Homo sapiens: one gene and its partners. The protein of the gene in region 1 interacts with the protein of each later gene in a pairwise test. Each region holds a gene or a part of one and is shown on either strand. Other genes may lie near its edges.

Region 1 (10,265 bases):
ACATACGAATATGTAGGTCATTGGATTTTCAAATAAATTAGAGAATAGTTTATCTATTAAGGAAGATTCGCTGTACATATTTTATGAAATCATGCTTATTATAGGTCAGTGGGCATTCTACAACCATCCCTCAGTAATATTAAGTCTTAAAATACTGTCATAAACCTTTCCATACTGGCATAAATCCCTGATTAATTTTTTAAAGTCCACAAAGTAACAAAGGGCAAAAGAATGCTTAAGGTTGGAATTCATAATCACACTGTCAAAAGGCAAAGATGTAAACAAATTAAATAGTCAAGCAACATATTTCATGTACATAGGCCTAGTAAGTCAAACTATGTCAGCACTAAAATAAATTCAGGATATAAGCAAGAACGAATATGGAAAAAAAAGGAAACCTGATACAGCTGCTTATTCCCACAGACACTATGTGCATCACTGCAGGAGCACAGGAGGAGTAGGGCCGAGAGGCAAAGCCACTCTCAAAGCCACAGAATCACATAATTCACCATTTGGACCCAGTAAGGACAGTTTTCATTTAAGTCAAGTTTGGTAAATCTCATAAGGCCTTACATCCAACGTCTGTTTCTGTCTCATTTTTATTCATTCTCTCTCTTTCCTCCACATTCAATATCCATAAGTCAGTCTGGACTATATCAATACTGACCCATTGAATTGCAGAGCTATAGGGGGCATAGGTTTTAAACAATAATACTGATAATATTTTCAAAAGAAAGGAGTAAAAAATTCTATACTAGTTCCATAACAACATATGGCTTTTGACTTGCAGAGAAAGTAGACATAAAACTATAGATAGGTTTTACTCAAACTACTACCCTATGGCATGACCAATTAGGCTGGAAATGGCGTGGACCTATAATCTGGGATAAAACGCAGATCCTCAGATAGAGACTACCACACCAGTGATTTATTAAGATGGACTTCCAAGGGAAACTGCTGAGGGAGTGTGAGAAGCAGGACAGGGAAGAGAAGAAATGCAAGCAAAGTCCCAGCTTCAGCCTGGTCCTGCAGAGCGCTCTGGAGTGGAAGTTATGCTTCAGAGCTGTCGCTACTACAGGAGGCTGGGAGCTGCCCTGTTGTCATCCTCCTGTACCCATCAGATGGTGGTAAGCATTTCCAACTCTGCCAGGATGAGCAGAGAAAATCAGTAGCCCAAACTGGAGAGATGTTAACGGAAAAGCCTAACAGCAGACGCAGGCTTTCAGAAGTAAAACCATGGGCCGGGGAGCGGGGAGGCGGGGGAGCATCAAAAACAGAGCTGGGATGTTATCTGCCTGAGGCTCCTCCAGTGTAAAATCATCCATCTCACTTTGTGGCCACAGGTTAAAGTGCTTAGAAATGTATCATGGGATTGCCTGAATATTAATGACCAGGTCAGAAAATGCCTTATCACTTTCACCTTACTGTTTTCACTGGGTCTCATTTGCCATAAAAGTCTTCAGAGACAGAAAGCAGGGCTAATCTCATCTTTCAAAAGACTAGCTAAAAAAAAAAAAAAAAGAGTGGTGATACTCAGAATGTATTTTACTTATTTTACATAAGGTCATAATGACCTAATGGCACAGACAGGACACAAGGCTCAGCCACACCCTGTGTCTAGAAACACGTTAGTCTCAGGCTCATGCTGGAGATCCCATATCCTGGCATTGCATGACCTCTAATGTGCTGTATCCCTACCCCAGAACAAGTGACTCAATTTTATGTTCCTAGTTTAGACCATGTATGTTTCTGTTAGCAAACCAAAAGAGAAATGTAAGGATAAAAATAAATAAATAATAAAATATTGGCAAAAGGCTGTCTATCTCTGACTCCAGCAGATGCCATGACCTTGTCATAAAGTGTGGATAGGGCATCATTTTATCAAACAAATACATTTTATATTCTTAAAAGACATATTTATTAAAATAAAAATAAACTAAAAAGAAGCTCTTGAAAATATGGCTCTATTCTCTTAACTGTGTTATTTTACATCATCAAATGATATGGTGACAATGAATCAGCCATAACAGGGTAATTAATAGTTTCTCTTTGGAGAACTGACATTTGAAATGTTATTTATTATGAATTTAAGTTTTTCATCTGGAAATCTTAAACATGAAAAACTGGGCAGGGTTTTCTTTTCTAACAGTTCCAGGTTTATTTGTAAATGTTTACATATTATTTTATTTTATACACACACACACACACACACACACATACACGATTTGTTCTTGGTATAACCATGAAGCACAAATCCAGGAACACAAAATATAAGGTGACAAAATGAACACACACGATTTGCTCTTGGTATAACCATGAAGCACAAATCCAGGAACACAAAATATAAGGTGACAAAATGTATTAAAATGCTTTTTATTGAATTTGATAATATATGAATAATAGAGATCATGAACTATTTCTGGAAAATATTCAATAGACTGAGGATATGCTACAATGTTTATTTTTGTTTATTATAGCTGGCAAGTCATTATATCATCCATAAACATCTGACTCCACTCAAAAAAGTCTAAACGTTTGGAAAATCTATGGTTGGTTTCATGGGGCATAATATACCATATTTTCCATTTAACAATGCTGCTGGTAAAACCAGCTGCCCAGTCCGGCTGTTAGTGACTACAGTACATACAGCAAAAAACAATCTGCCTGCTGACCTCCTGCTTAAGTTCAAACTATGTCATTCTGTCAGTACCATCTACCTTGATTAGGTTGGGCTTTATACACAACAGGTTATGATCCCAGAGGGATGAAAAGCTTTCCTAAATTAAAAGCAGAATTTTAAAAGGAAATACTCATACATTCCTACGCAGTTTCCATTTGATATCCTCAAGGCTGGCCCATGAACTCAAGCTCATGTTGATTGAAAGTGAATGTTTCTTTCTAGGTGTAGCCATCTTACAAATTTAATGGCAGGAGGAAAATAATAAAATGTGTTTCATGCTTCAATTAGACCTTTTATAACTTGGCACTTGAAAGATGGCAACGCCAAAGAAAAATCATTAATCCATAAAAATAGACAAAAAGGATTATATGGGAGAAGACAGACCTCCAGGAGTCTAGGTCCTTGGCAAAGTATACACTCTCGCCAATATGGTCTGTCTTTGTTTTGCCTCATTGTGAGTCTTCTCTCATGCTTCATGCTACTTGGATAAAATGTATACTGTATTTGCTTCTAAAATCCAAAGTAATACAACCATGCTTTCAATTTTATCCTTAGCCAAAGGAGCTGTATACATAACCAGGCAATAAAATGTTGGCTAGCCATGAAATGCCTATTCATGCACATGAAGGACAGATGAACGAACACACACACACAACACACACACACACACAGAGACAGAGAACTGCAAAATACAGAGCCAAAAGATAGATCCTTCCAATTTTTATTTTGCAGTAGTATGCAACAGACTTTCTCAAAAGGACCAGAGCCTTTCATAACCCCAGTCCAGACAACTATGGACACACAAATATTGCCCGAGTACTTTGAATCACGAGAGAAAGTGGAAGAGTGATGTCTGGAACATGTGAGAGTCTCTCAGGACCTCCAAACTCATTTTCAAGTGATGTTAACAGACTCTGTCAATATTAGAATGTATAAATTAGCTAAGAGTCAAGGGAACAAGAGATTTTTACCTCTCTTGGCCTCCTGCCATACCGAAAATGTCAGCACCAAACCTCAAACAGTCCCACTGTGTTTCTTCCTTGCTCCCAGTCCTGAAGTTCCAGCACCGCTGAAGACCGTTACCAAACCACAATGATTGGTATCATCACCAGTTCATGCTGTGAACTTCCCAAATCCTGTGATCTCAAATTGACCCCCTATCACTTCCAAACTGTCCACCCACTTTGGCCTCCCTTTCAACACCAAATTTTGGAAAGTGTCATGTACTTACTTCTGCATCCTCAACAGCTAATCACTCTTTAACTCCTGAATTCTGGCTCCTGTCCCCACTACTTTAATGAAATTATACTCTAAACTTCGCCAGTCTTCTCCCAACCAACTGCCAAATCTCATGACATGGTTTTAAGCCTCTCTCTCTTAACTTCTCAGCTTTCCACAAGTAGACAAGTCTTCTTCTGGAAACTCTCCACGCATGTCCTCTATACTCTCACTACTGTCTCCCTCTTCTTCCTTCTCCACCTGCCCCCATCTCCTGGCATTTCTTCTCTCTTTCCTGGGGCTGGTGCTGCTGCTGCTGGTGGTGGTGATAGCAGTGATTTCTCCCCTTCTCTCCCCTGACTCTTCCATTTCCTGTCCCAGGCTCTGTGACAACATCTCTAATCTCTTGCTCTAGTCCTGATAACTCTTCTTCCTAGCGCCAAACTCATATTTTCTTTTTCTTTTCTTTTTTTTTATTATTCTAGGGTACATGTGCACAACGTGCAGGTTTGTTACATATGTATACATGTGCCATGTTGGTGTGCTGCACTCATTAGCTCGTCATTTACATTAGGTATATCTCCTAATGCTATCCCTCCCCCCTCCCCCCACAAACTCATATTTTCAATGACTGTTGCACATTTTCACTTAAGAAGTTGGTCAACACTTCAACGTCAAAATAACCCAATCTAAAACTATCACTTTAACCTTACTCCAACCACTCTTTCCATGTCTTCCTGGATTCCCTTCATAATTACACCTTTATTCTCAGGCATCAGGCTTGAAGCCTGGTGTCAGTTCTATTCCTCTCTTTATCCATTTATACACTTTCTGTCCATTTTATTTCCAAAATATTTCTTCTCTGCACCCTCCCCAGCAGCCTAGTTCAAAACCTCTGTACATTTCACCTGGATACTTGCAGTAGCCTGCTAAATGATATTCCTACCCTCTTGCTATCAAACCTCCATAAGACCTAATTAAGATGGTGGGAGCACAGCATATTCCTACCTAAGACCTATGACGGTTTCCAGTGCCTGTTAAAGTTCAGAGCTCTTGTCTTGGCACTCAAGGCCTTTTTCAATCTGTGTCCATCCCTTTTAAGTTTTATTATCTACCTTTCTTATCAACTACCAACTATACTTGCAGTTTTTATACTTACAAATTGATAATAACTCTTTACAAGCAAAGAAAATATAAAAAATATCTTTACACCAAAAAGAGTAGTTTTTCCCATAAAAAGGTAGAATATATATAATAAGAGATAACAAAACTTGCCACGAGGCCAGTAAGAAAATCCCAACCATTAACAAAAACTTATTTTTCTTTTTTTCTTTTTCTTTTTTTTTTTTGAGACAGAGTCTCGCTCTGTTGCCAGGCTGGAGTGCAGTGGCGCAATCTCGGCTCACTGCACCCTCCACCTCCTGGGTTCAAGTGATTCTCCTACCTCAGCCTCCCAAGTAGCTGGGATTACAGGCACACGCCACCACGCCCAGCTAATTTTTGTATTTTTAGTGGAGACGAGGTTTCACCATGTTGGCCAGGATGGTCTCGATCTCTTGACCTCGTGATCTGCCACCCTCAGCCTCCCAAAGTGCAGGGATTATAGGCGTGAGCCACCGCACCCAGCACAAAAACTCATTTTTCAATGACTCATTAATCATACGACAATTTCAAAACTAATAAAAATTTAAATCGCCTACATAATAGAAATACATTTCAATTCAACCAGAGATCCAACACACTTTCGAATAAAGAGAGAAAAAATGTATTAACTGACTTAACAAAAACGCTATTTATTTAACTCACGCAGTATTGCTTAAAGAGTATCTACAAAATTCTTACCTCAATGTTTTCTTGCAAGAGACGTGGAAACCAAAAGTAAACAGACCCTCTTTAACAATGAACCACTGATAAACATAAAATATTTATAACTGGTATAACATTTCACTTAGGTGCATTTTTTGAGTGTTAACTTGCATCAGGCAATCCAATTTACCAACATTTATCAGATTTCTCCCCAGTGAGAGTTTTCACTTAACTTTTTTTTTTTTTTTTTTTTTTTTGAGATGGAGTTTCACTCTCACTCAGGCTGGAGTGCAGTGGCATGATCTCGGCTCACTGCAGCCTCCGCCTCCTGGGTTCAAGGGATTCTTCTGCCTCAGCCTCCTGAGTAGCTGAGACTACAGGCACGCATCACCACGCCCAGCTAATTTTTTTGTTTTGTTCTGTTTTAGTAGAGATGGTGTTTTACCATCTTGCCCAGGCTGGTCTTGAACTCCTGACCTCAAGTGATCCGCCCACCTTGGCCTCCCAAAGTGCTAGGACTACAGACATGAGCCACTGTGCCCAGCCCCTTAACTTCTGAAGTAATCATTAAATTTGGAAACATTCCTGTATTTTCCAAATTATTGAGGTTTCAATCCAGCATGCTTTCTTTCATTTGTAAGGTCCATCTACAGCGTGTGTTATCATGTGTCTCTGAACAGGTATCAGATAAATGAAAGCATTCCTACATTCTGTACGTTCACAGGGTTTTTCTCAGAAATCAGTTGTTTTATGTCTTCAAATTATTCCTGCATTTTTTAACTCAACATCTTTCCTATGAATGTCTTTACCTTAAAATAATAATCTTCTTCTTCATCATCTTTGCCTGCTGTACTTTATTAATCCTTCAAGGTCTAACCCATTGACAACCTAATACTCTAGAGTGTTGTTTACATATGTGCTTGCCCATTATCTTTTTCCTCTTTGCACCCACATAGAGCTTAGCTTCCTGCCTTGCATTTACGAGGGTGCTGAAATTTTAATCTACTGTTTTCTTGAAGGCTTACCATATTCATTCTCCTGGAAGTATTCCTCACCTCCAGCTCACCATGAACCTCCACCACAACTATTGCTTACACTCTCCAACATTACTCATAACACTTCACATTTTACTCTAATTATCTGGTTACCTGGTTTTCACCACTAGATCGTTAGCTCCCCGAGATTATGCACATCTGCTTTGTTCTTACTCATATAAGGGCTAGGTAAGTTTTTCTCAACATGCGGCCCCGGATCAGTACCATCATAATCACCTGGGATCTTGTTAGAAATGTCCATTTCTGAGTCCAACCTCAGACTTACTCAATCAGAAACTATGGGATGAGGCCCAGCAGTCTGTGTTTCACAGCCCTCCAGGTGATTCTGATGCACACTCCAGTTTAAGAACTACTAGCAGAAAAGAATGTCTTACATATAAGCACCCTCAATAAAAATAAGACGTGTGAATTAACTGTTTACATTTTCAACATTTAGTGTTATAATTGGCATATAATTCTCTCAAACATTAAAAATAAAAGTAAACTATCCATTATCATTTTATCAATATCTTAAATCTAACTTTTATGTTTTGAAGGATTTTTATAAATTTTTAAATAAAACTTTACTTATAAAATTATAAAACATAATTTTATTTCTTTTATAACGTTCAAAACCAAGGGAAAAAAATAGATTGTCTGGGCATGCATAGTTTTATAATTTGTTTTAAAAAATGGCAAGAGACTGATAATCACAAAATTCAAGATCAGGGTTACATCTGCAAACAGTAAATGGAGAGGATGAGAGAGTACATACCCAAGTCATTAGTAACATTTGGGGTCCTGAGTTGCATGTTGGGTTCAAAGATGTCCATTACCTCATCAAAATTAATCAATTAGTTAATTAATCATGGTCATGCATGGATCAATGGTAATAGCGTTTCATTAACTAAGGATTATTAATTAATCTAATTCTATGTCCTGAGATCCATAAAGCTTTTTAAAGAGATAAAAATAATTATAACCTATCTCAATTCTGTCCCCAGTATTACTGTTAATTACAGTGTTTAATGCTAATTGTACCTGTGTGCGGTTGAATGCCACTCTTGCAAAGACAGCTTGGGACACACTGGCCCTCTTCAGCTCATCTCTGACTTGCTGGTAGATATCTGGAGAGACTTCCACGGAAGAGTTGGTTGGCTCTGGCTTAACTGCTCTGGGGATGGGTGGATGGTTCAGGAACTGCTGGTTGATGGCTTGAGGATGCTGGTGAGCCAGGAGCCGGCTAACGGCAATCTGTTGGTTTATCAGATGGGCCATGGCTATTTGTTGCCTTACAAGTTGTGGACTAAGCTGGGGAGAAAGAAGACCAGGGCTCATGATGGGCTGTAATGCGGGCACTTGGTTTCGGATTGGAGTACTGTGGTGAATTTGGCTGTGAGGAGACTGTTCGTTGGTTTTCCCCAGGGATGCCAGCTGGTTCATATTTGGTAAATGCATTGGACGCTGGCCCAGAACACAATAGTCTGAAAGGTTTTCTCGTTCCACTCTTTCCACTGTTAAGAGATAAAAGTGATAATTAATCATTATTTTCATTGGTACAATTTATTGCTAATATATGTAGAACTGAATTATCATACTTTTGGCATGTTAATAATATAAACATTTTTTCATACAACGATGGAAGCTCCAGCATAAAAGTGATATTCTTTTCTGCTAAATGTTACAATAGATTTTTTTCATGGAACATATGAAAGAAAGTAAAATTATTTGCCACTTCAATTAGTTAAAATTCTTAAAAGTAAGCATTTCTTTAAATAGCCAAGACAGAAACCACTGACCATTCTAAATCCTCTTAGATCCCCCAAGCTCTATCATCTCCCCAATCAACCTTTGTTATAAAAGCACCAGCTGTTCCTATCTTCTGTAGTATGTAGTTAATGGTTATCAGGAAATGACAAGGATAACATCTCCTGCCAAATTAAGTGCTACCTTCTAGTAAAAAGCTCACATAAATATTATTATACAGCTATGGAAATGTTCATTTAAAAATGTCTGCCACATAGTATATCCATTTATTGACTCACTTGCTATCTTTTTTATAGAAATGTTTCTTTAAGAAATTGATATTTTAAACATTGTGCTATGCACTCAGATAAGAAAAAAAATCACAAAATTAATAACATCACCTCAACTTGCCATTAAATGAAGTTCTCCTCAGGTTATCTGCTTTATTACATTATATTGTGCTTTAATAAAGATTAAAAGAATAACTTTGAAAGGGAAAAGTAAGTATCATATATATACAAGCATAAGGCAAGTATTTTTCTTTCCCTAAAATAATGTCTTAGGAAAGACAGTCACCTCATAGCCAAATCCTTATCCAAGTCTCTGTATTACTCTATCATGAAAAACAAAGTTTGGTTTGGAGAAAAGAAATGGGGCTGAAGCAATCCCAACATTATTAGTTTTAAATGCTTATAGGTGTAATATAATCTAACAAGATCTCTTTTTCAAAGCAAAAAATCCATACAAATTTAGAAATTATTTCTTATAATTGCAAATGCTGGATATGACTATGCAAAAGTCCATTAAAGATAACTTTAAGAAGCTAGAGATCAAACATATTCACCTATAGAACACATATAAAAAGTAACTGTCTCCCTATTATACAAATGGAATGTGTGGTTTGCCATATAGTTAACCGTGACAGAATCATGGTTTTATAAAAAAAAAAAAAATACTGAGTCTCAAAAAATTTAGGCAGAAATGATGTGTGCTGGACAACTGGGTGAGATGACTGAAAACAGGGGAGTTGGTGATGACAGACACTGATGCCAAATCACATGTGAAGCACTGAATAAAGTCAATGAACTGTATGGGTGGAAAAAAGTAGTATTTCTAAATTAATACTTCATGTAATATGTGACTTTAAAAATGTATATGTGGAAATAAATTAATACATTAAAATGTGGGTAGATATTTAACTATTTTATATCCATGTCTACAAGTTTTATGCATGCAAAATATCCCATTAGGAAAACATGTGAACACCCGTCTTGGTATCACCTTATATTTAGACATGTACAGTGCTTTTTCCTGCTTTTTAAAGAAACTCAGTTAAGCTGGGCATGGTGGCTCACACCTGTAATCCCAGCACTTTGGGAGGCCGAGGCTGGTGGATCACCTGAGGTCAGGAGTTTGATACCAGCCTGGCCAACACAGCAAAACCCCGTCTCTACTTAAAATACAAAAATTAGCCAGGCATGGTGGCATGCGCCTGTAATCCCAGATATTCGGGACGCTGAATCAGGAGAATCGCTTGAACCCCAGGAGGCAGAGGCAAAGGTTGCAGTGAGTAGAAATCACACCACTGCACTCCAGCCTGAGTGACGAGCGAGACTCTGTCTCCAAAAAAAAAAAAAAAAAAAGAAAACCCGATTTCTTGCTTAACATTCCTATAAACTTCCAAATAAGTCAAGAGTTTACTTCCAACTTCTTTTAGGGCTCAATTTCTAACTTAATCCTTACAATGTTTGCTTGCTTTTTTTTTTTTTTTTTAAGACAGA
Region 2 (10,885 bases), on another chromosome or scaffold:
CTGGGGAATTCTCTCTCCCATTTATGTGTGTCTCACAAGAACCTTAGGAGTGCCTGGGGAATGCTCCAGGGTTGTGTGCAGGTGGAAACACCAGATTCTGCACCTACAGTCCCCCTCTCCACTTAAAGGGAAAAGAGAAAGTATTCACACTAGAAGGCAGGCGGCCTAGGCCAAGCTTATGGAGGAAGGAGGGAGGAATGGCAGCTCCTCCCATCCCTTCCTTTCTCCCTTCACCACAGCACACGCTCAAGCCCTACTGGTTATACTGGGAGTCGAGGGCCCCATATTTTAGTTCCAGCTGTGCTACCATGTAGCTGTGTAACCTTGGACAAGTTGCCTCTTCTCTCTGGACTTCGTTTTCCCAACCCATAAAATGAAGATTAATACTTCAGTATTTCCATATTCAACCAACATGTGGCCTGGCAGTGCTAGCAAATTAATAATAAACGCCATCCCTTGATCAGTACTACCATGCACCCGGCACCGTGCAAGGTACTTGACATCTGCTCTCTCATCTAACTCCCAAACAGAATCTCTAAGGTGGGTATTATGACCTACTTTACAATGTAAGAAAATTGAGGTTCGAAGAGCTTAATTAAGTTCTCCAGAGTCCCATCTCTAATGCCAAGTTCCAAAGCCTTTTCCACTCTGACACATGTTCTGCCCTGGGGAGGCCTCAGTTCCTTGCTCTGGGTTCCAGAGTTCTGGAACCAAATCTGAGGAGGTCATTCCAGCCAACGGAGCCTGAGAGTCCTGTCAAAAATAGTACCTGCCCTGCCTTGGTCTAGGGAAGCTGGAGCGTGGTAAGATCTGTGAGAAGGGAAACTGTGAGGAGTTTCTTGGATGGAAGAAATTATTATTTCACACAGTTTAGGCTATTCAAAAAATAAAGACATTGTGCCTGCTTAGGATGGGACTGGGGGGCTTGCACTGTGGCTGGAGAGACAGGAAACCGCCAAGGCAGTGGGGTAGGAAGGGTTAAGATGCAGGGAAGGCTTCCTGGGGAGACAACCCTTCCCTCCCCTTGCACCTCACAACTCTCCTCTGAAACAGACACCCTGTTCCCATTCTTCTCCCCTCCACCCTCCCCCCCACCATGTGATATCTGTCTCTCCTACCCCAACAATCTGAGGTCCAGACAGCAGACCCCAGCCTTCACTGCTTGGGTACCCCAGTACTCAGCCTGGGACCTGCCCAGGCAGAGTAGGGGCTCAGCAAACATTTGGGGGAATTACTGGATCAAAAGCAAGCCTTCCTCTCCCAGTCCCTCTGCTTCCCTCCCACCAAGGAAGAGGTATGTTTGGGGTAGGGGCCCAGCAGGATATGCACATTCCTGGCAAGAAGGGACCTACCTGCCTACAGCCAGAACGGAAGTTTTCGGCTCTAAAGGCAGAGGAAGGGGGCTGGGGGCGTCTAGGTGTGAGGAAGATCCCTACACAGAAAGGGACAGGAGCAGGTCCCTTTGCAAGTGGGACCCTTTGCAAATGCTCTGGCCCTGGCGTTCTCCAGCACTGGGGTCAGGTCTTTCTCTCTCCAGGGCTCAGGGGTTCCCCAACTCCGTAACTCCTGGGAAACCTGTCCAGGACAGGGAGAAGGACAGAAAACTCCACCCAGGCGCCCAGCCCTTGGTGCCAGGAGAGAAGGCTCCCATGGTCTCCCAAACTTAGTAGCAAGGCTGGAGCCAGGATAAAGTGGGTCCTGAGGGTCCCGTCCCGCAGGAGAGATTCAGCGCTCACCCTGGCCCTGGGTGTGGAGGCTGAGAGGGGGCAACCACAAAACCACCTCTTCCCCTTGCCACCTTGCCCCACTGACTAGAGTGTGAGTGACTCCCCCAACTCACAGTTTTTTGAGTTTCAGATCGAAAGGGCACCATGGGAGCCAACAAGCTGTCCAGGTACCAAGAGCAGAGCCCCAGTATCCTCCCTCCAGCCACCAGGTAACAGAGCCCCAAAACCCCGAGGCAAAAGTTTCTCAAGTTGAAAAAAAAAAAAAAAAAAAAAGGCCTTCAGACTTCCCCACAGCGGTTTTCCGCGGGGGCGGGCAGAGGTTTTCTGAGGCCGTGGCTCCCCTTCAGGCGGCTGGGTCCACTGGGCCTGGCCTTCGGCCCCTGCACCTACCGGCTGGTTCGCAGCAGGGGGAGGGGGTGGGGGAGAGCTCAAAATGCCCGGTGCCCGCAGGGCATGGCGGTCAGGGGGCCCTTCAGCCCTGGTTTTCTGTGGAAAGTGAGCTTCTGGGTTCGACAGTGGGACCGGCACAGACCTTCCCGCAGCTACAGGCCATACGACAACCCCGCTGCTCTTTCTTTCTGCGGGCACTCGGGCCAGTCCTAACAATTGCCCCTCAAGCTGTGTGTGCTGCCCTAACCCTCAATCCCGAACCCGAAACAGTGCGTGCTGGGACGAATCTAGGCAGGTCTCCGAAACCGGGGTGAAGATGCTGAAGTTCAGGTAAAAACCCGCATTGGCCAAAATGCTCCCGGGCTTTCTCGGGAGTCACCCGAATGGCAACTTCAGGCTCGGGTTTGGTTCTCCGGACTCCCCACCCCTATTCCCGGCTCCAGGCGCCGCGGTCAACCTGCGGGGAGACTAGACGTTGGGGTGCCAGACACGCGGTGATCTCCAGACGCCCGAAACGCCAGGCGCCGAGTGAGCGAGGAAACCAGCCGGGAGGGGGCTGGCCAGGGAAGCCGGGGAGCAAAGGAAAGAGCGGGGCGCGCTCTGGGCTCAGGGTTCCCATACCCTTTCCCCCCAACCTAGGATCGGGGTGGGACGCAGGTGTGTTCACGAGATCGCCCCAGTTGGGGGACACAGGGAATCCGCCGCCGTCTGGGCCTGTCTCAAAATCCGCATTCCGCGAAATTACCCGGTCCTTTATGGGGGCGGCCGGGACCCCAGGTCGCATTCTAGCGCCACTGGCTGTGCTCTGACGCAGCCCAAGGAAGTTTGTTTGGCGTGGATGAGGAGCCCGAGGCTGAAGCGCCGCCGGTCAGAGAGGTGCTGGGGTTGTCCAGGGGAGATACCAGACTCCTCAGTTGGGGCGGGGGGGGGTCCTGCTCGGTCACTCCGGGCTCCTTCCCTGGTGGCCTCCGGGCCCCCGTGGCCGCCCTCTCTTCCCCCCTTAAGTGGTGAAGCGGGAGCTCTCTCCACAGCGGGTGAGTAGAGGTGTCAGCCAGATCGTTTCCCCACCCTCCACCTCCGGCGCACAAATCACAGGGGCCATTTCCAGACGCTCTCAAGTCCCCAAGAAGTTTTCCGCTCTATCCCCGAGCTGACCGAGCGATGGAAAAGGGGCTGACTGGCCCTGGCACTTCCGAGGTGCGACCTCAGCAAGACAAGTCCCCTCTTCACCAGAGACGACACGGCGGGTAGGACCGCGATCCCCCGCTCTCTTGCCCCCATTTTCATCTGTCTCCGGCGCGTCCTGGGGAGTCCGGTACCGACTAGAGTTGGGGGGAGCCACTTCCCTTCCCAGCTCTGGAAAGTCTGGGCCGGGAAGTATTCTTTGTCTGACTCGGGGCGGGGAGGGGGTCGCGCCCCCGTACACCCCATTCCCAGAGGCCCGGCGGGGAGGGGGCGGGGCCCAGATTCTTGGGGAAGGGCGGGCCTCGGTGGCCTCTCCGGCCGCCCCCCTCCCCGCCCCGGCCTCCGGCTGCCCCCACTCCCGCCGCGCCACAGCCCCCACCTGTTCCCGAGGCAGCTCCGGCCCGCTGGGGCCCGGGCCAGGGGCGGAATGTCGCGGCTGCGCGGGGTCAGTGCGCCACGGCCGGCCCTGGCTGGAACAAAGTGCGCCGGCCCGGGCCCGGCTCCTCCTGGCGCCCGGCGCCCAGCGCGTCTCGGGCGGGCAGTTTGCAAACACAAAGTGAGCCAGCGAGCGGGCGAGAGAGTGCGCGAGCGAGGGAGTTGGTCTGGTCGCCCGCCCAGCCCCCACCCACGTCCCTGGGCCCGACCCGCCACCTACCTGTCCCGCCCGGCCGCTCCGTGCGGGCTCCGGCCCGTCAGCCCGCGCGGGGCATGGGGCTCGCTCCGGTCGCAGCCCGGGCCCGCCGCCGCCCGCCGGGGCTGCCCTTCCGCGCCGCCCCGCGTCGCGCAGCTCCCGGGCGTCCTCCCAGCGCGCCGGGCCGACCGCCGCGCGCCTCAACCCCGCCGGGGCATGGCACTTTGTGGGCTGCTTGGCTCGCTCCGGCTCCGCTCTTCCTTCCCGGTCCTTCCGCGACGCTCGTCAGCTCGCTCCGGCTCCCGGGCTCCCGGACCCCGGCGTCCCCGCCCCCGGCCCAGCCCTGGTTCCGGCCCGGGCTCCTCCCCGCCGCGCCGCCGCCGCCTGCGCCGCGCCCTCCTCGCGGGCTGGGGGCTCCGTCCCGGCCGCCGGCCGCCGGCCGCACTGTCCGGTCCGCAGGGACGGCGGGCTCCGGACTCCGAGGGGCTGCGACTGAGCCTGGGCTGCGAGTGGCTGCGAGCGGGCGGCGCGCGGGCGGGGCGGGAGGGGGCGGGGGAGGAGGAGGGTGGAGAGGGAAGGAGGGAGCGCGCGGAGAGCGAGGGAGGAGGGAGCGAGAGAGCAAGCGGCGGAGGGAGGGGAGACCAACTTCTAGTGCTACCATAATTCGCCTAAAGCAGGTGCAGCAACTTTCACCCCGCCTGGCAGCCCGCTGAGAGCGAGAGAAAACCACGTGCACCAAACTTTAGGGGAGGAAAAATGGGAACGTGGGGAGAAGACGTGAGGCGGCAGATCTGAAAAAGATGGTAGGTGGAGGGACCCCAGGGATTCACCCTGGCCTCGGACTAATCCTATGGGGCGCTTGCAAACCCCGGCCATCCCCTGGAGTCTGAAGGTACGGCCAAGTCCTGATCCCACACGGTTCACTGGTTCCCGGCGGGCTGCGCTCGGCGCGGGGAGTGGCCGGGGGCCCAGAGACGGAGCCAGTGTCAGGCCCGGGCCCTGTCTGGCCTCCCTCCTGCTCCCCACTGCGTGGGGGCTGGGGGTGGGCTTCCTGAGCCGAGGGTAGAAGGTGGGGAGGCCCCTTCAGGGCTTTGTGAACGGTCACCCCCTGGCGCGCACTGCCTCCCTCTGCGGAAAGGGAATTTCCCGTAAAGTGCTCTGCGAACCAGTGAAGAAGGGGCCCAAGGCCAGAGCCATGCGGGCAAAGTGAAGTGCAAAGTTGAGGCAATTATCCGGACAAATTAGATTGTAAACAAAACCCCGCGTCTCTGAACATCGCTTTTGCCCAGGGGGACTGGAGGGATTGTGGTGGTGGCGGCGATGGTGTGTTTGGGTTGGGAGGGGGAGGTCTGGGTGAGGAAATGCCCACGGCCCAAGGGGGAGGGCTGTGTTGTTAGCAGACGCACCACTCAGAGTCCCGTGGAAATCTCAATACCCGTCCCCCTCCCCGCCCCACACACGCCGGAAACATCTCCCATCTGTCTGCATGTGTTGGGGGTGGGGAGAAGTGAAGGAGGCCTCAGGGGTCCTCATGAAGTACCCCAACCCAGCTCAGTGATGCCGGGTCCCCATGACCAAGGGAGGATCCTGTTGTGGGATCAGGACAAGAAGACAGTGGCTCTTGAAGCCTCTCCTGGCCCTAAATCCTCAGGCAGGTGGACAAGAGGCTGGCATAGTATGTGAGCCCCTGTGGAGTGGGAGCTGGAAGCCTGAGGTGTGGGGTCGGAGCTGCAAGGATTGATGCTTAGTTGCCTGGGGGGAGGGGATTTCTTGGCCGTTCCAGTGGTCCTTGAAAGAAAAGGGGACCTCAGAGAGGAGGCACCCTCTTGGGTTGTTTTTCATCACTTCTGTCCCTTTTCTGCAATGTTAGTGACACCTGCACAGGTCCACATTTTATGTATTTGCCTTTTTGGGCAGGTGGGACAGGCATACTTAGGTCCTGCTGGAGCGTTTTAGATTTCTAGGTGTGAAATTGTGCAGGGAAGACTCTAAGTGCCATTTATGTGGATATCTCAGTGTCCTTTCCAGTGTGGCAACTGAGATAACCATAGCCATAAGAATAAAATAACAGCTAACATCTGAGTCGTACCACCCACCAGCCATTTAATCTTCACAGTAACCCCAGGAGGGAGATATTTGTATTATCTCCATTTTATAGAAGAGGAAACTGAGGCACAAAGAGATCAAGTAACTTGCCCAGGCTTACACAGCTGCTGGTCAGTGATGAGCCAGATTCCAACTAGAGCCACTTCAGTGAGGACAAGAAAGAAGCTCATGGTGGTCTCTGAAGCGACACTGCCTGCTTGTGGGTTAGCTGAGGGGAAGGATATTCTGGGAGAAAGAAAGCCCTTGGTAGTACTATCTGATTTACCTTCTGTTGAGGCCCAGCTCTGGTGGAAATCATGGTGTGTGGACAGCCCTAGGCCAAGCCTGGAGTGGCAAGTCCTTGTGTCAGACCAGCTGGGCCAGTGACTATGTCCTCAGTTCTCCTTCCTATCCTTCTTGCAGCAAAGGCTGAGGGTGGGGTGAGAACTAGGGGCTTTGGAGACAAAAGAGAGAATTTCTGTAGGGGGGTATTGAATGAGGTGACCTCCGAGGGGCTTCTCCAGCCCTTTTCTGGCTGGTTCACTGAATGTTTTTCCCATCCCCTTCCTGCAGCAGCCCTTGTACCTTACACATGGGCTCACTTGCCCAGAGGGATTGCCCTGGGAAATGCTTCACTTTCAGTTCAGTTTACCCCTCATCTCCAGGCCAGTTCAGTTCCCAGCTCCCTGTGAGCTACAGTGGGGGCTCAAGGCATCAAAAGACCCTGTCTTGTCTTCACCTAAAGGGCATTTTAGCGAGGAAGACAAAGCCTCCCCAAAGAAAGATACAGAACAAATGCCCCGAAATCAAAGAAGCCAGTCCAAAGCCCTTCTTCCTGGTGCAAGAGCTTCGTTAAGAAGGTTGAAAAGAGTAGCCCTTGGCTCCAAAGTGGGAGTGACCGGGAGCAGGCAGGAGGGTCCTCTTTCTGTCCTTGTTCCTTCACAGGACTCAGGGCAGGTGCAGGTGCTTTGGCGGTGGCCGGAACCAAGGCTCATGGCTTGGCCCCTCCAGGGGGGCCATAGTTAAGAGCACAGGGGCTAGAGTCAGGCAGCCTTGGGTTGAACTTCAGCGTCTGTCACTTAACCAGTGTGTGACCCAGGCAAGTTACATGATGTTTGAGTCTCAGTTAACTCACTCATCACCTCACTCATCAATTGGGAGGTTGGGAGGCCTCCTTGGGTGTTTGGGAGGGAGGATGGGCAAAACTTCTAGCCTGGTAATGTGTTCCTCACATGCTTTCCATAATTACTTATTTTCCCCTTGATGAGCTCCAGGGTCCTCACTTAAAATGACGAATGCTGACCTCACAAAACTGCAAATCATGAGTTGCCACTTATTAAATGCTTGCCAGGCAGTCGAATAACGTGCTGTTCAGCTTATCACCCCAGCAATGGTGACTCTTCTGCAGGTGAAGCTAAGAGAGGTCAAATGACTTGCTCAGTTCACATAGCTAGGAAGTAGTGTGGCGAGGACTTGCTCCCAGGTCTCCTGCTTTGAAGCAGACGCCCTTTCCCAAGGTCAGCCGCCACCCTATTGTGGAGGTGAAGTGGGCTGATGGATGAGCTTGTTCCTAGCAGCAGGCCTGATACTCAGGAGTAGGTTGGGGTGGTAGTGGTGTGTACATCTAGAAACATTTGCTTCATTCCCATGGTCCCAACAAACCTAAGCCCAGACAGTTTATGTTTCTATTATTATTATTATTATTGAGACAGAGTCTCACTCTGTTGTCCAGGCTGGAGTGCAATGGCACAATCTCAGCTCACTGCAACCTCCGCCTTCTGAGTTGAAGCAATTCTCCTGCCTCAGCCTCCCGAGTAGCTGGGACTACAGGCTCATGCCACCATGCCCTGCTAATTTTTGTATTTTTAGTAGAGATGGGGTTTTGCCATATTGGCCAGGCTGGTCTCGAACTCCTGACCTCAAGTGATCTGCCCGCCTTGGCCTCCCAAAGTACTGGGATTACAGGCATGAGCCACTACACCTGGCCAAAAACTATTTTTTAGTTATTGAGGAATAAAACTTCATCAGCATAGGCCAGGTGTGGTGGCTCACGCCTGTAATCCCAGCACTTTGGGAGGCCGAGGCAGGTGGGTGGATTACCTGAGGTTGGGAGTTTGAGACCAGCCTGACCAACATGGAGAAACCCCATCTCTACTAAAAATACAAAATTAGCCAGGTGTGGTGGCACATGCCTGTAATCCCAGCTACTCAGGAGGCTGAGGCAGGAGAATCGCTTGAACATGGGAGGTGGAGCTTGCAGTGAGCTGAGATCGTGCCATTGCACTCTAGCCTGGGCAACAAGAGCGAAACTCTGTCTCAAAAAACAAAAAACAAAAATAAAACCCACTTTATCAGCATAATACAGTAACTCCACTCCACTCCACTCCTAAGTATATGCCAATAAAAATGCATATGTACATATGTTCACCAAAAGGCATACACCAGAATGCTAGGCCATCTACTCGCATGTGCTCACTATTCACAACAGCTGTCAACAATGGAATAGGTGACTAAACCACGGTCTTCTCATCCGTGGGCTAGTCCTTGGCAATGAGAATGAGCAAACCATTGCCACGAGCAACAACATGGAGGAATCTCACAAATCCAACGTTGAGCATAAAAGCCAGACACGAAAGAAAACACCGTTTGATTCCATTGATAGGAAATTCAAAACCCAATCCAATGAATTGATGGCATTAAAACTCAGGAGCATGGCTGTTTTAGGTGGGGGTGTGACGGAGGGGCACAAGGGGATTTCTGGGGGTCTTTTTGAATTTGGGAGTTGGTTACATGCATGTGTTCACTTTGTAAACATTAATTGAGCTATACATTTTATGCTTAAAAGTGAAACATGTAAAAATCATTGCTAATATAGGCCTTTCTGTGACTCTCCTTCTTTCCCATTCTCCATCCTTCCCTTGTGGTTTTCTGAAGTTGGCCTTCCCAAGTAAGTTTTCTACTCTTACTCCTTTGGTATTGCTTGGGTATCTCAAAATTTTCTTTTGTTTTAGTTATTTATTTTTATTCACTTTTGGGGCATAGTAAAGTATGAAGCAATTAAAATTTTAAATGAAAGGTAGCCTGCTCCTTGTTTTTACTTGTGTTTTGCTGAACTTCATGCTGCCGAGATGAATGTCTACATGTTTGTTGCATGTGTTGTGTGTGTCTCTAGGTCACTTACTTAAGAGGCTGCTGGAGAGGATTCTACCATATCAGTGTGTCCCATCTTGTTTTGTTACCCAGCCTCCCACTGATGGGGCAGTTCGATTGTAGTGGATATTTGGGTATTATGGTCTCCTTGCTGCAGTAGGCTTCCTTCTGTGACCTCCCTCCCCACTGTGCCTCTCCTTCCCCCTGTGGTTCTTCTGCTCCATAATCTTTTCCCTTTCCCATCTCCCCACTGTTCCTCCATTCCCTGCTTCCCAATCTTTCTGACTGGGAAAGACCTAGGATCTGTGCCGATTGGAGGTGAGGGAGGGATAGGAGAGGGACAGCCTTTTCCTTTTCCACAAAGGCTCCTCTTCCCCAAGATCAATGATGATTTAAAGAAAGAAATATTTCATTAGGGGTTGACATCTTAATGAACCGTGCCAGGAACCTTCAAGGCACTCTCTAGGCTTCCTCGGTTTTAAGCGGGGCTCCTACCTCTGGGGGAGGCTTATCAGTTTACCATATTGCCCCAAGTAGATGACCATGGTAGTGTGGGTAGCTGTGCCAGGGGCTGTGGAGGAGAGGGCCCCCAGGACTGGGGCGAGGCTGGCTTGTCCTTCTAGGTGCCAGGCTGACCGGGTGCCTGGGCCCTTGGAGGTATTTGGAGTTCCTTCTGGGACGTTTAGGGAGTCAGAGACTCAGGCCTTGTCCAAAAGGTGGTGGGCATGGGACTTTGGGCTGATTGGTGGAAAATCAGTCATTAAAGATCAGGAAATAAGCGATAGCTTGACAAGCAGTGAGCAATTTCCCACTAGTTGGAACACAGCATCTTTAGGTCAAATGAGATCCCTACATGGAGGGATTTCTGTGCAGGAAGAGAGCAGGACACACAGAGAGGGGCCAAGAGAGCAGACCCAGTGCCTTATCCCTCCCCCATGCACCCCACCCATGGGGGTGGGGATGGGGTGGAGGATGCATGAGGGTAGCAGAAGCCCCAGGAGTGGGCACAGAGAAAAGAATTCCTTTTTCCTTCATTTAGTTCTTCCTCATCTTTTTTTTTTTTTTTTTTTTTGGACACGGAGCTTCCGCGTTGTTGCCCAGGCTGGCGTGCAGAGGTGCAATCACAGCTCACTGTGATCAACCTCCTGGGCTCAACTGATCCTCCCACTTCAGCCTTCCGATTAACTGTGACCACAGGTGTGAGCTACCATGCCCGGGTAGAGAAGGGGTCTCTGTGTTGCGCAGGTTCGTCTCAAACTCCTGGACTCAAATAATTCTCCTGCCTCAGCCTCCCAAAGTGCTGGGATTGCAGGTGCAAGCCACCTCGTCCGGCCCTTCCTTATCTTTTAAGAGCTATCCCACATTTTCCATCCACTTGAAGACTTTTGGATTTAAGTCTCAATTCTGTCACTTTTCTAGCCCCAAATCCTGAAGCAAGGGGCTTAACCTTAGTTTACTCAACTGCAAGATGGGAAGAAAAATGAGACTCTGGCAGAGAGGTCGTGAGGACAAGTATGGCTCATGTAGGATTCTTCTCAGTTTAGGCATTGGATAGACTATAGCTACTGTTATTCTTTCTTGATTAACCCAGCCCACTTCTGCCTCTTTCCAGGTGCTCTTTAGCACTCCTATGTCATTGATGTTATAATGTGTTGTTAGCTAACTTATTTAATAAGCTCCCAGTAACTTTTAACAAACCCTATTGTTTGTTAACTGT
Region 3 (10,265 bases), on another chromosome or scaffold:
GGCTCGCCGGATATTTTTATTTAAAAGGAACAGTTGTACATCAGTGCAAGGAAGGCTGCATGGGGAGTCACCCTCCCAGCAGTCTGTATTAAGCATTACGGATGGGGATTTTTTTTTTTAATGGCTGTATTAGTGTTTCAGCAGTAAGAATTAGGACTGGCTGCATAATTTTGGAAGCCCAGTGCAAAATGACAATCTGGGGTCTTTGGCTCAAAAATTAAAATTTCAAGACAAAAATGGCATTAAAGCAAGTACATGCCAGGCATGGTGGTGTGTGCCTGTAGTCCAAGTTACTTGGGAGGCTAAGGTAGGATGATCACTTGAGCCCAGGAGTTCGAGTCCAGCCTGGGTGATACAGTAAGACCCCTATCTCTAAATAAAAAGGTAATAAAAGCACATAAAATCAAGTGCAGTGTCCTTTTAGGCATGAGATCCTATGTGACTGCATGTCACACACCTGTGAACCAGCTCTGCTAAAATACCCTACATTCTTTTAGGAAGAATTAGTTATGCTGATGATGATTCCTTTAAAAAACACAAACCCTTAGTTAAGGCCAGTTTTCTTATTTTTGCCAATCTGTTTCCATTTGAGGTCATATTTTTAAATATTGTAAATTCAGCAGGAATGCTATTTTTTAAATTTTCCTAGCTTTACAATTTATAATGTTTATGGCTAGATGAGATTCCACTGTGTTGACATATGTCAGTTTCTGAATACTAGGCATTTGAGGATCATCTTTCTCTTTCTCTTTTACTGTTTGTATAATACAATGACCACTTTTATCCATTAATCTTTCTACTCTATTTCTGTTGATTTACCTCCTTAGGATAAATTTCTAAGAATGGAATTGTTAGAGCAAAGGCCAAAACATCTTTATGGTTCCTATGATTTATTGTGATATTAACTTCCAAAGGGGCTATCAATTTAAACTCAATCTCATCAGCAGCAAGCATTATTTGTGAAAAATATTTTGTTGCTTAGCAGGTACAAGGTAAGCTCAGGTTACCTTAAATTGTGTTTCTCAGATTACTGACAATGGTGAACATTTCCTAATGTTTGTTTCAAACTTTCATTGTTGAGAACTGCAACTTCATAAATTACTGAAATTTATGTTTTAGCTATATGCTGATTGAGGTTCAAATGTTGTTTTCCAAATCAACATTTTCCTACTTTCTTAACTATCAGGTCTATCAATCTTTTCATGTTTATAACCCAGAATTGAATGATAGAAGAATGTAAGATCATACAAGACCTTGGGGAGGGGGAAGGAGGATGAGGACCCCTAGAAGAAATAGAACCATCCATCTCCATCTTAATGAAGTTCTTGCTGTATAATTTTAGACTTTGACCAATATTTTGCTAACCTTATCCAAAAAATCAGGTGCATGTAAAGCCCCACAAAACACAGTTCACAACATCAGAGAATATTTCGTTTACCTAATTATCCTCATTTGATCATTACACATTGTATACATGTATCAAAATAACACATGTACCCCCAAAATATGTAGTTACGAGGTATCAATTTTAAAAGCTGTAGAAGTGAAAAAACAAATAAACAAAACACGTTTTCCCCCTAAATTGGTAGCCAAAATTCATGAGGATTATTTACTATCCACAAGACAGAGGTAATGATCCTGTCATGCCTGTAGGCTCGACTCCCAGTGCCTCATGCAGAGTGGATGCAGAGTGGGTCCCCAACAAATGTTAACTGGCTAGATCTACTGTGTGACCACCTGATGACACAACCAGGTTAGACAGTAAGGTTTCGAAACTTTAGAGAAGTGAAATCCGATTTCGGGACATTTCTTGATGCCGGCAGATACCCCTGGGGTGTGGCAAACGTGTAGCACAAGCACACAGCACTTCAAAGAACAAAAGAGGATGGGATTCCACGAAAGATACATTTGAGATGAGATGCAGACTACTGAAGACACTACACTTCACATACACTCACCGTGTCTCCTGGAAGTTAGGGCTGTGTATGATGCACCTTCCTCTCCTTGCAGACACTGCCCCCACCCTTTCTCTCCAACTCCTACTTCCGAAAGGGCTACCGCTGAATAACTGTGTGCAAAACCACACATTTCCCTTCTCCTTACATCTGAGTAATTCCTTTGTTTAGCCACTCTGGGAACACAAGAGTTTTAAAATAAAGCTGACTGGCGTTTAAAGGCATTGTGTTCTGGGGGTGTCTGCACAGCATGGAGTATTTTGCTTTGTAGCTCCTTTAGCGCCTATCAGGATAAAAGTAGAATGCCCCAAAGCCATAATTATGTGACCACTTTCTAGTGTTTCAAAGGACGAACGAAACGTAGTGGTATCTGACTGTCACAGAAAGGGTAAGAATGAAGAGTTCTGTTTCAACACTCAATATTAGCTAGGCCGCCTTCCTAACAAGGTCCTTCAAGCCGTGCCGTAAAGTTTATGGCTTGATTTATTCCAATAGACTGGAACAGTTGAAAAACAATTTGCATCATAGCAGGGTAATGCATATTGGACAAGAATGGAAACTCTTGTCACTACAGAATTCTCTTAATGGAAATATGAGGTCAAAAAGAGTAACAGTCTATTACACAGATAGCAGGCGCAGGGAATCTGCTGTTGACATATAATTACATTTAGCAAACAGCACAAACCTGTGAGATTTGAGCAACGCATGTTGACATTTTTGTGTAGGGTTTCTTGTAAAAAATAGTTGAAACCTTCATTTCATCAAAAATTACAAAGACTATTGTAAAACATGGTTTGGGTAATACTGGGGTTAATTCAAATTTGTTAAACAAATTAACCCTGCAGTGACTTTCTTTCGTACAGCAAAATCAGCATCACTCTGAACTGGTGCCTGTGGCTTGTATCCAAGTATCTCTTTGTTTTAGTGATTCTTTATACTAATAGGAATATATGTCAACAAAAACTTGGAGTTTGTACAGATTATGAGAAATAGCATCACTTCCATTCAATAACCAGACATTTTTGTTCTGAGTATTTCTTGCAGTAGCTTATACCAATTTACGTTTGCTCTGAACTTCGTTAGTATCTAAGTAAATACTCGTGTCATGACAATGATTTAAGATGAATACAAATGTGGTAACAGGAAAATCGGAAACACTAAGTTGCTTTGGAAAGGATGAAATATAGCAGCATCAGTGTGAAAGATAAACACACTCTTAAAATGCTGTGAAGCAAATGCTAAGATACTGTTCATATAAATTAAAAATGATTATTTCCATATCCAGAAAGGATAGTAAAGATCCTTTCTGAAGTGCTGTGGAGATGAAACTCAAATGCTAGAAAATCAAATTTCAGATTTCCACGTACCCTCCAAATTATGCTGGCAGATAACACTTTTTTCTTTGTCATTAGATGCCAATTCCATATGCTCCTAATTGTTACAGGTCATAATTTCCATTCCGATCACTTAAATTATCTTAAAATAAGATGTTGGTCAGTAATTCAGAAGTAATGTGTAGACAAGCAGCCTATTCTAGGAACTGACAGTACTGCAAACACGAAATGGGTTAGTACCTTAAAGTGGGCAACAGTTTTGAAGAACCTCACTAAAAGGGAGAGACTGTCATCCCACAGCATCTCCTGCAAAGCCAATCATTTGGAATAATGTGGTTTCTTCGCTCTGTTTGAAAACTTTTCCTGGGAGAGAGGGTGTTATAGTTACACCAAGTTCTCTCCCATCACCCACTCACAGGGGCATCACAGTCTCCTGGCCTCCGCCTTTCCTGTGGTTTGCAGTCCTGGTTCCATTCACATTCAGCATGGGCAGCCATCGCCCATCACTTCATTCAGTTATATGTGCACTCATTATACTGCCGTCTGCTGCTATAATGCTCCTATTAATTTTCCTTTTGATATTTTAAGAGCAATCTATAAATCATGCCGCCTTTCATTTGTGCCATCATTAATGGTTGGTAATAATGCTGCGGCGGCGTGTTCGTGGTGAACCTTAGTGCACCACCAAGTAAACAAGCATCTTTTTCTCTCGGCTAGGTTCAACATGCCCGAAAGTTGAACAAACTGCAAACTTTTTCATAGGAATGCATATTAGTTTGAGGAGGAAAAAGTAGTGTGGCTTAAATAATGGCCTGGGATGTGATAAAGCAGAGGGAAAAAAAGCAAACCTGTTTCTCATTTTATTGCTGTGAATTGCTTTTATGGGAAAGTTAGCAAATAGTCCTTTTATGCACTAACCAAGCTGAACATTTCTTGAAGTACAAACTTCTAGCTTGGTTCTGGGAAATCAGAAATTACAGAAAAGGTATATAAAGCCCAGAGAAAGGGCTGTCTCCCTGCGTGTACCTAGGGAGACTAGGGTCAGATAGCAAAGACCTGTTGGGTGGACAATACTCACACGGCTTGCATAGGAGATCTGCCTGGACTGCTGTCACTCTCGTTGCTGTTGGTATGCTCCATTGCCCCGTTCAGCTCTTCCCGTATTGCGCTGGCTAAGTTGCCCAGAGTGGGATTTCCCATGGAAGCGGTAGTGTATAGAGGTATACTATTCTCAGCCATTGAAGCCTGTCATCAACCAAGAGAAAATTTATGAAGACACAGGGTATGTAAGACAAGGAAACTACTAATTATGGGTGTACTCGATAATCTTCAGTTTGAGTTAATTGTAGCATGGCTGGCAAATACAAGTTTCTAAGAGGTGTTGAAAGATTTTGCTTTAAAAACGACTCGTGGCACCTGTCCCAAGCTTGGTTTTGAAGAGCTAACTGGGGGCCAGGGGGGACCAAGTGCCTGTGGGTAGGAAGGACTCAATTTGGTCCTGCTTGGTAGTCACATGGTTTAGACGGGCTTTCGAATATGAGGTTTATGTCGGATGCGTTTTTAAGAGGAGCTGAATATTTCCAGATCACAGTGAAATATAATAGAATTTTTATTTCTTTATCCATTTTGATGACTCCAGTATTGGATATTAGAGATTTTGATCAGATTATCCTGGCCGCACCGCTCAAACTTATGAGAACTTCCATAAACATTTACCTCTTAGATCCTATAGAAAAGGAAGAGATTATAGAATTGGAATCAATTTTTTATCTCCTCCCATCATTTCTGTTTTAATGATTTTTGAATCTGTTTAGTGCAGTTTGAGATAACTGGTTGAAGGAAACACCACGTAGTGTTTCAGAGTCCGACCAATTGCCTAGGATTTTAGGACTAAAGAACTCTGGCAAAGGGAAGCTCTAACTCATATTTATTTTTGGTGCCAAAGTACATCAATATTAAAGGTTACAAAGTTACTCCACGTGAGTGTCAGCAAAAAAGTGAGGAAATGAAAAAGAAGAAATCCTAAACTTTATTTAGGATAGGTAGGATATTATTCACTTCCTGTTATACTGCATTTGAATAAAAGGGACACCAAGTCTGAAATGCAGACGCTAGTTACATATACCACTGGACTAAGTAAGGTACCCAAAAATTTGTTTCATCCAGGTGGTGATTACGACCCACTGACTTTTCATTTCATTAAAGAGGACACTTTCAAAAACTGGCAGCTGTAATTAAACCAAGATTTATCACAACTGTCCTCCTGCAGACTAGACTATGCCTGCTTTTCCATCCTAATGAGAAGAAAAGTACATTAGATGTACTTCTTTTCACAAGATGATCTGGCATAGTGACTTCCACTGGCCAGTCATACAAGAGTCCGAACTATTCTAGAAATCCTGGCTCTAGAAAGAAAGTAAAAGCCAAAAGAGTGCAAAGCTGGGCTGCAGAAATCTGTCTGGCTAGTATGACAATCGCAGCCTCACTCACTGTACAAACCGCAAAGCCAGGGCTTTCTAGGTACAAGCCCTGTGTTAGAAGTCCTGTGCACACTCACCAAACACAGCATTGGATAATGGACTGTTTCAAAGCTCGGCCCTATGTAAGCCCACAGCTTTTCCTTCCTTCTACTTGTAAATGTGTATAACTGCCTTCTTTTAAAAAGTAGGGGGAAAATCCTGTGTTTATTTCCAAATGTGGTGAACTCATTTTGATGAACAGCAAATGTGAACATTCCACACTCTCCTACAGTGTGTCAAATAATTTGCATCAAGTACTTTTTCCAACAGCTCTTTTATAATTGCGATAAAGCTTTTTTTCTTTCTTTCTTTTTGTTTTTTTTTTGGCAGAGCAGTTGCCAGAACTACTATTATTTGTTTTTTTTTTTTGTTTTTTTTTGTTTTTTTTTTTTTTTTTTGCAAACTGCAGTTGGACAAGCATCTTAACTGCTTTTATCTGAGAGAGGTGTGACCACTGTTGTCTCAGTCACAGAAATTCTGCTGAGTGTCTTTCCACTGGAAATACCATAAGATAAGCTCTCATAAGACAATTTCACTATTCCAAGGTCAGAATGTGGCAAAAGTGGGGCTGCTGCTAGCTTAATTATTTTAGCAGCTTCCCTGGTCAAAAACTGTGAAGACAAAATTGAAATGCTGATATGAACGTGTTCATTGGGATGAGTTTGTCATCCTCTAGAGAAGGCAACTTTCTTGGGATGAGTATTTATTCTCTTTGGCTCTCAAAGTATTCTAGGTCAAGGCCATTGCTGATTGGGATTGGATCATAGAACATGGGCTGAGACCCAACAGCCACAGTAGTGAAACGCATACAAAGGCAAGCACTTATACTGATCCCTGGGTTCTCAGGCAAGAACGATGTAAGTGATGAAAACCAGCCTTGTCCCTTGAAAAAATGATCAAATGGGCTGCAGAGAGATCCCAGTGCCTGATCCGCAAGAGAGCTTCTTGAACACGCTCTCTGTTAAGCAAGTGATCAGAGCAACCCACCCAAGGTTAGATAAATTTTCACTAACTGCTTCTGCCTAACAAAGTGTTTTTTTTTTTTTTTTTTTGGTAGTTGATGTCCACTTAGAAGCAGGTGTGTTACAAAAATGGAGTTAATTATATAAATGGTCCTTGCACAGCATGTGGTTTCATATCAAGCTGGCACCTCTGCCAAAAAATGAAGTTGCTTAAGTAATGGTGCAGAAGTCCATAAGCACCCTCGCTCCTGGAACATTAACCACTCTGAGATCCTCAGGGGAAAGGCAGTCTATAAATACGAAGCTTTACGGTTACCCTTAGTTACTTCACTTTTCAGAGCATAATGCAATCTGTCCCAAGTCCCATGTTTTATTTCTGTAGTGGATTCTGCTGTCCTATTTTATATATTGTATATCATGCATTATGTTGCTCTAGTAATTTTTTTGAAGATATTGTTCCACTATTATTTTTACTTGTCTTGAAAAATGGAAATAGGCGGTAATGGAAAGGAAGGCCTGCTGGCAGAATCCTTATTTAATTTGCACAGTAGAAAGTTGTCTTATGTGTCTGTCTACTGATCAGGGATCCAAACTCGTAGAAGAGAGGGAAACAATCCACTTCTCAAATCATGAATTTGTATCAATTTATTCCCCTTGCCTCATTATGGACGGAAAGTGTTCTTGGAAAACGGCAGGACAGTTTTGGGCTACTGAAGAAGATGCCAAAAGCAAATGTTCAGAGATGAAACCTGAACAGTTCTGTAATGACAAAGCATACTAATTGAAATTAGTCACATAGTTAAGAGAATTCAGAGGATGGAGGATCACTTTTTTTTTTTTTTTGCCTTTCCGGCTCATGAATATAAAATGTGCTTGTAATCTTAATACTATTCCATATTCCAGATAGAGCAGGCTTTAAATTCACACTTCACAAGACTCCAGGGAAAATAAGTTACTAATGAATGGTATTTACAGTGGCAGCATCGAAGCATGCTTTCATTTACTCTTCTAAAGTTACTGTGTAAACTACAAGTAATTAAAAGAAACGCAGAAAGTAGTTTCTCCTATTAAATCTGGTTCAGGCTAAAAATAAATAAATATAATTACTGAAATGCTAAGGCCAGTGAATCTGCCTCTAAACTGAAACTGGGTAAATGGCCTATCATCAATTCCCAGGAGCCTTAAGACTATTCTGGGCCTGTAGGGTACAGAGTCGTGCTCCATAAATATCTGTTTAATGTCCATAAATATCTGTTTAATGCAGAGCAAGACCCAGGGCTCCTGTCAGTATCTCCTCCTTCCTCATCCTGTTCCCATCATACTAAAGGTCTCAACTGTTTTTTCATTATTGTCCCTTTTTAGACTTTTGTTTCTCTCTTTCTGCCCTCACCCCAAGAAATGTTCATATTTGCTCAAGTATTATGGTCCTTTGGAAGGACACAAGACATTGCAGTATCTCAGAACCAATCTAGGGGTGATACAGCCCCCATTGAGAATGTATGCTGCAGAGGACTGCAATGGTATTGGATGACAAATGTCAGATTTATCTATAGAATATGCTTCTCGAACAGTCTGGGTAGGGGCAAAAACAGGACCACTGGCCAAAAGGATACTGCTTACTTATGAACTCTTGAGGGGGGACTTGAGTACTACACCCAGGTACTTTAATGAAATGACACTGGAGTAGCCTTCATTTAAGAACTGAAATGTGCAACATGTAAAAAGTTTGCTAGAAGCTGGGCTGCCTCAGGTAGCTCCTTTTTGGGTGGTAATCTCGCTCCTGCTCAAAACCCGCGTCTTCATCTCCTGGTACCATTGGTGATGTAACAAGTACTTGGTTTGTCAGTAGGAAATAAATACTCCGTGTGATTATCATGTAATCTTGAACAATCTGCAGGAAAACTAAAGAGTCTTCTTAAACACCTCTATTGTTTAAACAGACATGGTTTACTTTTACAAAGTGAACCAGACCCCAGATCCTCCCCACCCCAGACAAAAGCCAAGATGCTACAGTCGACTTTAAAAGAAGAAAAAGAAATACAAAGCCCTGCTTTCTCTTTAAACCCATGAACAATAGAAGGTCATGTGACGCAGTGGCCTATCATCCAGCACATTAATAGCTGTGCTAGAGTAATTACACTTGTGGTATTTTTGCCTCAAGTGAAATTCTGAAATAAGAGGATGGAAATTATGATACTGCTGATAAATATTAATAAGTGAACTTTTAATTTTTTTGCCACAATATTCAAAATGCTAAGCATCCCGCTAACGCTGAAGCAGCCCGATGTGTTTGCCTCCAGGGAGTATGATGCTTTGTGCACTTAAGAAAAAAGTTTAACGGAATTAAAATTTAATATCTAATTAGAGCAAGGCTAATATATTTTGAAATGAGTAGGGGAGACCTGTGCCTCTGCTGCATATTCGGGACGGCCGTTAATCTTACCTGTAAAGCTGCATTGAGAGGTGTGCAGTAGGCGTGGCTGCTCTGCATGTTTTTAATAAGGGAAGGGTTACTGTGTAAGAAAAACATAAAAACTCAAAGTTAAACACAGTCGACTGCTGAGTTCCTAGCTAAGTTTTGTTTTAAGCTTGCTGGTGCCCTTCCAAATGAGCAATTTCCCCCACTAGCAAAACCCAAGAAAAGTCAGGCTTTCTCCCCGTCACTGATTTGCAGGGCGGGTGTGTGTGCACACCTCTGGGGTTGGACTTCTCTATTCAAGGAAACTAGGTGTAAAATTCTGGCTTAGGTAGTAACAGGCTTGGGTCCTCCCTCCAGAGACCTCTCTGCAGATTTTTAGGAGTTAGCCTGACTCCAGACTCCAACAGAAAGGAAGGCAGCAGCCTAGGAGGTCGTGCTGGGGAAGGCAGTGAGCTCACAGCAGGGGCTGCTGGGCACGAGCAGAGAGAATCTTGGCTCCTAAGCATCTTTGAGATTTGAACTTTACAGTGACTGCTAGAGGGATGGCAGGAAGGCTTTTAAGGAATATCCACAAGGCACGTTTATTGCCAACAGGCGATGGAGAGTAGGGTATGCCAGGGGAGGGTCGTTCCTAAATAAGGGGATGTCTTAGCCAGATCTGGGAGGGTCTGAGAATATTTGCTGCCATCTCCATTCACGGACCAAATGAAACTAACATACTGTTGTCAGAAAATCTCTAGCCTCGTAAGGATAAAAATATTAAAAAATTACATAGGGCATACTGAGGGAAAAGGGTGCCTCCCAGTAGGCAATTACCTACATTTATCAGTGGTCTTTAAAGGAAGTGTATGCAATATGACCTATTTCTTTACTATGCTTGGAACATTTTAGTCATTCACTTCATTACATTTGTATTATTATAGTGAGTGAACAAATAAGAAATCTACCCCAATAGTATATACACACATTTTAACTAACCAAAAATTCCCTTTTTACTTGGGGTGGGGAGAGAGGGGGGATTATGGGTTAAGCACAAGTATTTAGTTCTAGGGTCCCCGTAAGCTGCTGAATCAAAA

What was found.
Region 2: the proteins of SATB2 (region 1) and FOXP4 come close enough for resonance energy transfer, tested with the Homo sapiens proteins (one study listed by BioGRID).
Region 3: the proteins of SATB2 (region 1) and FOXP1 come close enough for resonance energy transfer, tested with the Homo sapiens proteins (one study listed by BioGRID).

What each region holds. Positions count from the first base shown.
Region 1 is NC_000002.12:199,340,922-199,351,186, forward strand, and holds part of SATB2 (DNA-binding protein SATB2), read right to left. Parts: intron 8,253-10,265; coding exon 7,780-8,252; intron 1-7,779. UniProt on the Homo sapiens protein: Binds to DNA, at nuclear matrix- or scaffold-associated regions. Thought to recognize the sugar-phosphate structure of double-stranded DNA.
Region 2 is NC_000006.12:41,539,940-41,550,824, reverse strand, and holds the start of FOXP4 (forkhead box protein P4), read right to left. Parts: upstream 4,445-10,885; 5' UTR 3,958-4,444; intron 3,365-3,957; exon of another isoform or gene 3,280-3,364; intron 2,448-3,279; exon of another isoform or gene 2,204-2,447; intron 1,979-2,203; exon of another isoform or gene 1-1,978. UniProt on the Homo sapiens protein: Transcriptional repressor that represses lung-specific expression.
Region 3 is NC_000003.12:70,961,523-70,971,787, forward strand, and holds part of FOXP1 (forkhead box protein P1), read right to left. Parts: intron 9,284-10,265; coding exon 9,214-9,283; intron 4,535-9,213; coding exon 4,368-4,534; intron 1-4,367. UniProt on the Homo sapiens protein: Transcriptional repressor. Can act with CTBP1 to synergistically repress transcription but CTPBP1 is not essential. Plays an important role in the specification and differentiation of lung epithelium.